Linked DNA regions of Homo sapiens: region 1 is reported to be linked to region 2. Evidence: microRNA targets listed by miRTarBase, many of them from high-throughput screens and not tested one by one. Region 2 holds a microRNA gene; the other region holds the end of a gene's coding sequence.
The links. The annotated mature microRNA hsa-miR-1226-3p reads UCACCAGCCCUGUGUUCCCUAG and lies in region 2 at 1,837-1,858, shown strand. An mRNA with a match to its seed (bases 2 to 7 or 8) in the 3' UTR can be bound and repressed. Matches are read on the target gene's strand: a 7mer-m8 pairs with bases 2 to 8, a 7mer-A1 pairs with bases 2 to 7 and ends in A, and an 8mer does both.

Region 1 (3,508 bases), not on the chromosome of region 2:
GCTGTGTGTGGCCTCCAGGAGCTCCTTCAGTTTCAATTCCACTCTCTGCAAGTCGGGCTTTTTCTGTATTGCCAAGCCTCTGCCATTGCCATTGTCTCCTCTGCCTGTTGTGTGACACGCTCGCCTCTCTCCCTGTCCACCTCCTCCCGTTCTTCCCTCTCCCCCTCCATCTCTCTTGCTCCCTTCCCATACCAGCATCCTTTGTCATCCCAGCTGTCTTCACCTGAGTCCAGTTGGTCCTTACCACCCCCATTCTCCTCTCTCCCACCCAGACTGCCCGGTTCCTGGGCCTGACCTGGAGATCAATCCCACTCTGGAGTCTCTGTGTCTGAGCATGACAGAACACGCCTTGGGTGGTGAGCATTTCCTCTTTCCCTGACCCAGCTCCCACCTACCCAGCGTCTCTGCCTCTGAACTGAGCAACTCAGAGTCATCCTGAGGGGTCCCCAGGGGAGGCCAGACTCCAGGGAGGGCCTGACTGGGATGACAGGCTACCTGAGTGCCTTTTCTTGGGCCTCCCTCCAGCTCCTGATCTTCCTCCCTTCCTCCCTTTCTTACCACAGATGGGACAGACAAAACCTCCACCATCTGACGGGACCCACAGCCCAGCGCACCCATAGGCTCCCTGGGCGGCGGGCGGGGGCCAACCCCCAACGGGCTTCTCCGCGACAGCGAGAGGGTGGGCTGGCTCAGCTATATATTCTAATATTTTTCTACTCTCTTACCCTCTTAACTTTTGTTTAACATTGGCACATGCCTTGCTCACTCCCAGGCCCGTCGAGGGATCTCTGCTGAGGCCCGGGGAGTTGGGGGCAGCCAGGATAAAGGGGGCAGGGACTGGCCAGACTGCCTGCCTCTCTCCTTTCCTTCCTCATCCCCACCTGGTCCCATCCCACCCCTGCCTCCTCCAGACCGCTGACCACCTGCCTCTCCCCAAGGGAGCAGACTCCCCAGAGACAAACTGACCACTACCTTGTGGAGCCTGCTCAGAAACATTTGACATTTGGGGTGACGCGCAGGGCAGAGAACCTGCCCTCCAGAATGTTATTGAGAGGAGCTGGGGAGAAGGAAGGGGAGCAAGGAGAGGAAGCTCTCTCTCCTCTCCCTGCTTCCCCTTCACCATTCCCCACATTCTGCAAGGACAGGAGCCACCTTCCTCTCTCTCACCTCCCCTGGCCCTGTTCACCAGAGGTTCTCTATGATTAATTTCTTAGGCCTATTTAAGATACATATTTATATAGTTCTTAACGGTTTTTCTCTGATCATTTCCTCTCATTTTTAGAATCCCCAGGTCTCTCTCAGCCAAGACAGTGGCAGGGAGAGCCTGAACTTTATGAGGGGAGAGGGCAGAGCCCCCTCCTCCAGACCCTCAAGCTCTAACCCATTTTCCTCCAGCCCTGGCTACCCGGATGAAGAGGTTGGAGGTGGGCAGCCAGGGTAGCCAGTGAGGTCAGGAAGTCTGTTGCCTTAACGTCCCCTTCCCCACGAACACACACCCTTCTCCGCTCCCAGGTCTGGTTGGTGAGACTTGGGAGTCAGGAATAAGGGAAAGGGGATTGTTTGGTTTTTGGGTTTTTCCCTAAGCCCCTCCCTTTTCTTTCAGCCTTTTTCCTTCCCCCATTATGTCATGACCTCACTTAAGTGGAACACTATATCATAACCCAGAGATTCGTCCCAGCCCCAGAGTCCGACAGACTGTCTGGTCCCTATTCCTAATGAGGGGTTGTGTTGGGGCCCAGGTGGAGGGAGGGGATTTGGGGGTTCAGACTGCGGGGAAGCCAGGGTCTCCCTCTTCAACGCCCTCCTCCCCCTCAACCCACCTTCCCAACTGGGACATTCTCAAGCTTTTCACACCGAAAAGGAAAAAAAATGTTATTTTTAGATACATTTTATGAATAACTTTTGTTATGAATATGGCTGGTAACCATTGTGTATGTTATTAAAGATACAAAATGTTGGGAAAAAAACAAAAAAAACAAAAAAAAAAAAAATTTTAAAACCACCACCCTCCCTGCACTATCACCCCATTCCCCAGACCTTCTTGCCCCCGCCCTCCTGGTCTGTGGACTTCCCTCTGCTCTGAGCCCAGGGAGGGGGAAGAAGCCAGGGGGTAGGGTGGCCCTGGGAACCTGGCTCTGGGTCCCCACTTCCTCTCCCAGTGCCGGGCTGGGTGGGGTGTCAGGTTTATTTATGTACCTCTTGCACACTCATCAACCTATGCAAGTCCCCCACCCCGGCCCTCCATGTTTCTGTGCCTTTGCTCATCCCCTCAATCTCCCAGGGCTTCTCCAGTCCCCCTCCCACTAGCTGCAGGAAGTGGGATGGATGGGCCACCTCGTTTGGAATCAGCAGGGTGTCCCTCTCATGGGACCCTCCCCTCTCCCCAGCCTGTCCTGTCTTGTTCACTCTCCATCAGGGTGAGCTGACTGTGCCTGGCACTGGGAGGTGGTGAGGGACACCGTCTCACACACACAGGGAGGCAAGAGCTGCCCCCCACCCCACCTGACAGCAGAGTGTGCAGGACGCAGGCGGCCCCACTCTGATGGGCAGGACCCTGACCCTCTCCCGCTCCAGCCCCCTCCCCAGGCCCTCCTCCATGATTTCACCCTCCCTACCCACTTCTGTCCCCGGCCCCACTGGCAGAATCAGCTTTGAGTAACTGTACAGTTTTTCTCGCTGTTGGAGAAGACTTATTTGTTGGAGTTTCACTTGTTTAATGGTCTGGGCTTATTTTGGAAAAAAAAAAAACAAACAAAAAAAACGAATTCTGACCTTCGTTGTGCTACATTTTGTGGGAAACCATTGGCCCTGCCTCTGGCCTGTGTTTCTAAGCCTCAAGCCAAGATCCTTGAGCACCTGGGGGTTGCGGGAGGTATGTGCTGGGCTGAATGACATCATAGGGGCTGGGAGGGGAAGTAAAGAGAAGTTGACTTTATTAACAGCAAAGGTTTGGGGGTGGGGAACAAACAAGTGAAAGGCTCACAAACAGACCACTAGAAAAGTGCTTTGCTGCTCACAATAATGGTGTCTGAACCAGCCCTGAATGCCCTGGGACTCAGTCACTGTCACTATCAGCTTCACTGGAATCAGAAGCTGCAGCTTCACTGCCATCCTCCTGGGCCGAGTGCTCGCTGCCACTGGGGAAGGGACTGGCGCTGCGGCTGTGGCTCCGGCTCCGCTGGCCACCCCCATTGCTGCCGCTGTCTGAATCATTGTCACTGCCACCTTGGGCCTGTCCTCTGTCCTCATCATCAGAGTCGGCATCGTCCTCAGAATCAGCATCACTGCCAAAGATCTCCTCTTTGTCACGGGCAGCCCGGGCCTCATCCTCGCTGCTCTCGTCCTCACCACTGCCACTCTTGTCACTGGCCTCGTCCCTGTCACCTTCCTCCCGTTCACTCTCGCTGCCCGAGTGCTCATCTTCACTGCCCTCCTTCTCACTGCTGCTGCCCTTCTCCTGCTCCTCATCTGGAAGGGAGTGGAGAGAGATGAAACCCACTTTTCCACC
Region 2 (3,000 bases):
GCCCACCAGTGCACTCCAACATCCCCATGATGGATCAGAAGGCCATATTCCAGCAGCCTCCAGTTGGGGTGCGCAAGATTGTCTTGGCCACCAACATTGCTGAGACTTCCATCACAATCAATGACATCGTGCATGTGGTGGACAGTGGGCTGCACAAGGAAGAACGCTATGACCTGAAGACCAAGGTGGCACCTACCTCCTGGGCCCGGCCAACCACTGGGGGAGGGACTCCGTTTTGAGGTGGTCCCCAGCCCAGATCTACCTTAGACCTGCTTTGTGTGTCTTCAGAAGGCCGCGCTTGTGGGGTCTCAGTGTTCCTGATGTAGGGGGCTGGTGAGGGTTACTCAGGGAGTGGGGAAGCACTGAGGAAGTGGCATTTGTGTGCTGCTTACTTGCCACCTCCTCCAGGTGTCCTGCCTGGAGACAGTGTGGGTATCAAGAGCCAATGTGATCCAGCGCCGGGGCCGGGCGGGCCGCTGCCAGTCCGGCTTTGCCTACCACTTGTTCCCTCGAAGCCGGCTGGAGAAAATGGTCCCTTTCCAAGTGCCAGAGATCCTGCGCACACCTCTTGAGAACCTGGTGCTGCAAGCGAAAATCCACATGCCTGAGAAGACGGTGCGGCGGGGCGGGGCAGGGGCTGGCCTGGGGACCAGGCAGGTGGGAGGCAGGCTCATGGCGGGCTCTGGCTCTGTCATAGGCGGTGGAGTTCCTGTCCAAGGCTGTGGACAGTCCAAACATCAAGGCAGTGGACGAGGCTGTGATCTTGCTCCAGGAGATCGGTATGTAGGGGCTGGGCTGGGCTGGGCTGGGGAGTGGCTCTCGAGGGTGGTACTGACAGCTGAGCCGTTGCAGGGGTGCTGGACCAGCGGGAGTACCTGACTACCCTGGGGCAGCGCCTGGCTCACATCTCCACCGACCCCCGGTTGGCCAAGGCCATTGTGTTGGCTGCCATCTTCCGTTGCCTGCACCCACTACTGGTGGTCGTTTCCTGCCTCACCCGGGACCCCTTCAGCAGCAGCCTACAGAACCGGGCAGAGGTGGACAAGGTCAGTCCTGGCTCCTTCCTGGAGCCGTCCACCCACTGCTGTTCTGAGGGGGCGTTGTCTAGCCCCTGCCTGTGATCCGGCTGCCCTCTTCTCCCCTCCCAGGTGAAAGCACTGTTGAGCCATGACAGCGGCAGTGACCACCTGGCCTTTGTGCGGGCTGTCGCCGGCTGGGAGGAGGTGCTGCGTTGGCAGGACCGCAGCTCCCGGGAGAATTACCTGGAGGAAAACCTGCTGTACGCACCCAGCCTGCGCTTCATCCACGGTCAGTCGGGCCCACACCTGCTCTCCTGAGCCCCTCCCACCCCCACTGAGTTTCTGTCACCTCCAGCCTGTGGCTAGGGGCTGTAGGTCCACCACACATTCTGTCTCCCTAGGACTCATCAAGCAGTTCTCAGAGAACATTTATGAGGCCTTCCTGGTGGGGAAGCCCTCGGACTGCACCCTGGCCTCCGCCCAGTGCAACGAGTACAGTGAGGAGGAGGAGCTGGTGAAGGGCGTGCTGATGGCCGGCCTCTACCCCAACCTCATCCAGGTGCTGCCTCTGGGAGGGAATGGAGTTCACCAGGTCCCAGCCTCCTTCCCTGTCTGCAGCTCCTTGCTCAGCCCCACCCGTCTTTTCCTCCATCCCTGCAGGTGAGGCAGGGCAAGGTCACCCGGCAGGGGAAGTTCAAGCCCAACAGCGTCACATATAGGACCAAATCAGGCAACATCCTGCTGCACAAGTCGACCATTAACAGGTGAGGGCATGCAGGCCTGGATGGGGCAGCTGGGATGGTCCAAAAGGGTGGCCTCACCAGCCCTGTGTTCCCTAGGGAGGCCACACGGTTACGGAGCCGATGGCTGACGTATTTCATGGCAGTCAAGTCCAATGGCAGCGTCTTCGTCCGGGACTCCTCTCAGGTGCACCCGCTAGCTGTGCTGCTGCTGACCGACGGGGACGTGCACATCCGTGGTGGGTGCCTGCAGGCCTCCCGCCCACCCCGCTCTGCAGCTGCTCCTCCGGGGCCTGGCCTCACCACAGTTCCCCACCATCTTTTCCATTCCCTCAGATGACGGGCGCCGGGCCACCATCTCACTGAGCGACAGTGACCTGCTGCGGCTGGAGGGTGACTCGCGTACCGTGCGGCTGCTGAAGGAGCTGCGGCGGGCCCTGGGCCGCATGGTGGAGCGGAGCCTGCGCAGCGAGCTGGCTGCACTTCCCCCCAGCGTACAGGAGGAGCACGGGCAGCTGCTTGCGCTACTGGCAGAGCTGCTGCGAGGACCCTGTGGCAGCTTTGATGTGCGCAAGACAGCTGACGACTGAGCCCTGCTTCTGCTGGGGCTGTGTACAGAGTGCAAATGTTTATTTAAAATAAAGTTCTATTTATCCCTTGTGACCACTGCTGTCCACTAGGGGCTCCTCTCTCAGGGCCTCCATACACTGGGCCACGGTTCCCCAAAGAGGAAGGAGGAAGGTAGGTAGAGAAGAGAGTGAGATGCTTATTGCTGGGGAACGGGCTGGCTGTGGCCCCAAGTCTTTTAAGAGAGAAGGGGGTTGGAACCTCCTCCCTTCACCAAGAAAGAGCATGAAGCAGCGGTGCTGTTAACCACCCCAGTCCCCTGGCACAGCTGCTGCTCTCGGTACCCACCACAGGAAGCCTGTCAGAACTGTCACTGTCCTTGTAGTTTTGGACAGTAAGTAAGCAAGTAAGTGTCAAGTAGCCCTTTATCAGGCAGACTAGGGGAGAGTTCCACAGGTAGCCAAGGCGCAGGGCTATGTGGCACAGTGGTCCTTCCCGTGTCCACATCCACAAGTTCACAGCTGAGGGGCTGAGCTGAGGGCAGGAAGATCCAGGGAGGTGGTAGATGCAAAACGAGACAGAAGCACGAAGCCTGCGTGATGGGACATCAGGCAGCTTTATTTATTTACTCTTAAAACTGTTACAACAGAATCATGGACTGACACAGGTAATGG

Region 1: miRTarBase lists PAF1 as a target of hsa-miR-1226-3p. The part of its 3' UTR that is shown has no 7-base or 8-base seed match.

The regions. Positions count from the first base shown.
Region 1 is chr19:39,382,936-39,386,443 of GRCh38, forward strand. PAF1 (PAF1 component of Paf1/RNA polymerase II complex) reads right to left here. Exons shown (of 14, transcript NM_019088.4): 14 at 2,694-3,468. The coding sequence ends at 3,056. SAMD4B (sterile alpha motif domain containing 4B) reads left to right here. Exons shown (of 14, transcript NM_001384574.2): 13 at 273-356; 14 at 564-2,765. The coding sequence ends at 592. Among named protein-coding and RNA genes, the nearest start is that of PAF1, 6.4 kb to the right of the region's middle.
Region 2 is chr3:47,847,772-47,850,771 of GRCh38, forward strand. It overlaps MIR1226 (microRNA 1226), which reads left to right and starts at 1,784; the gene lies at 1,784-1,858. It overlaps DHX30 (DExH-box helicase 30), which reads left to right. Exons shown (of 22, transcript NM_138615.3): 14 at 10-185; 15 at 409-615; 16 at 698-779; 17 at 853-1,046; 18 at 1,149-1,308; 19 at 1,421-1,578; 20 at 1,680-1,783; 21 at 1,859-1,998; 22 at 2,096-2,422. The coding sequence ends at 2,349. MAP4 (microtubule associated protein 4) reads right to left here. Exons shown (of 21, transcript NM_001385682.1): 21 at 2,924-3,000.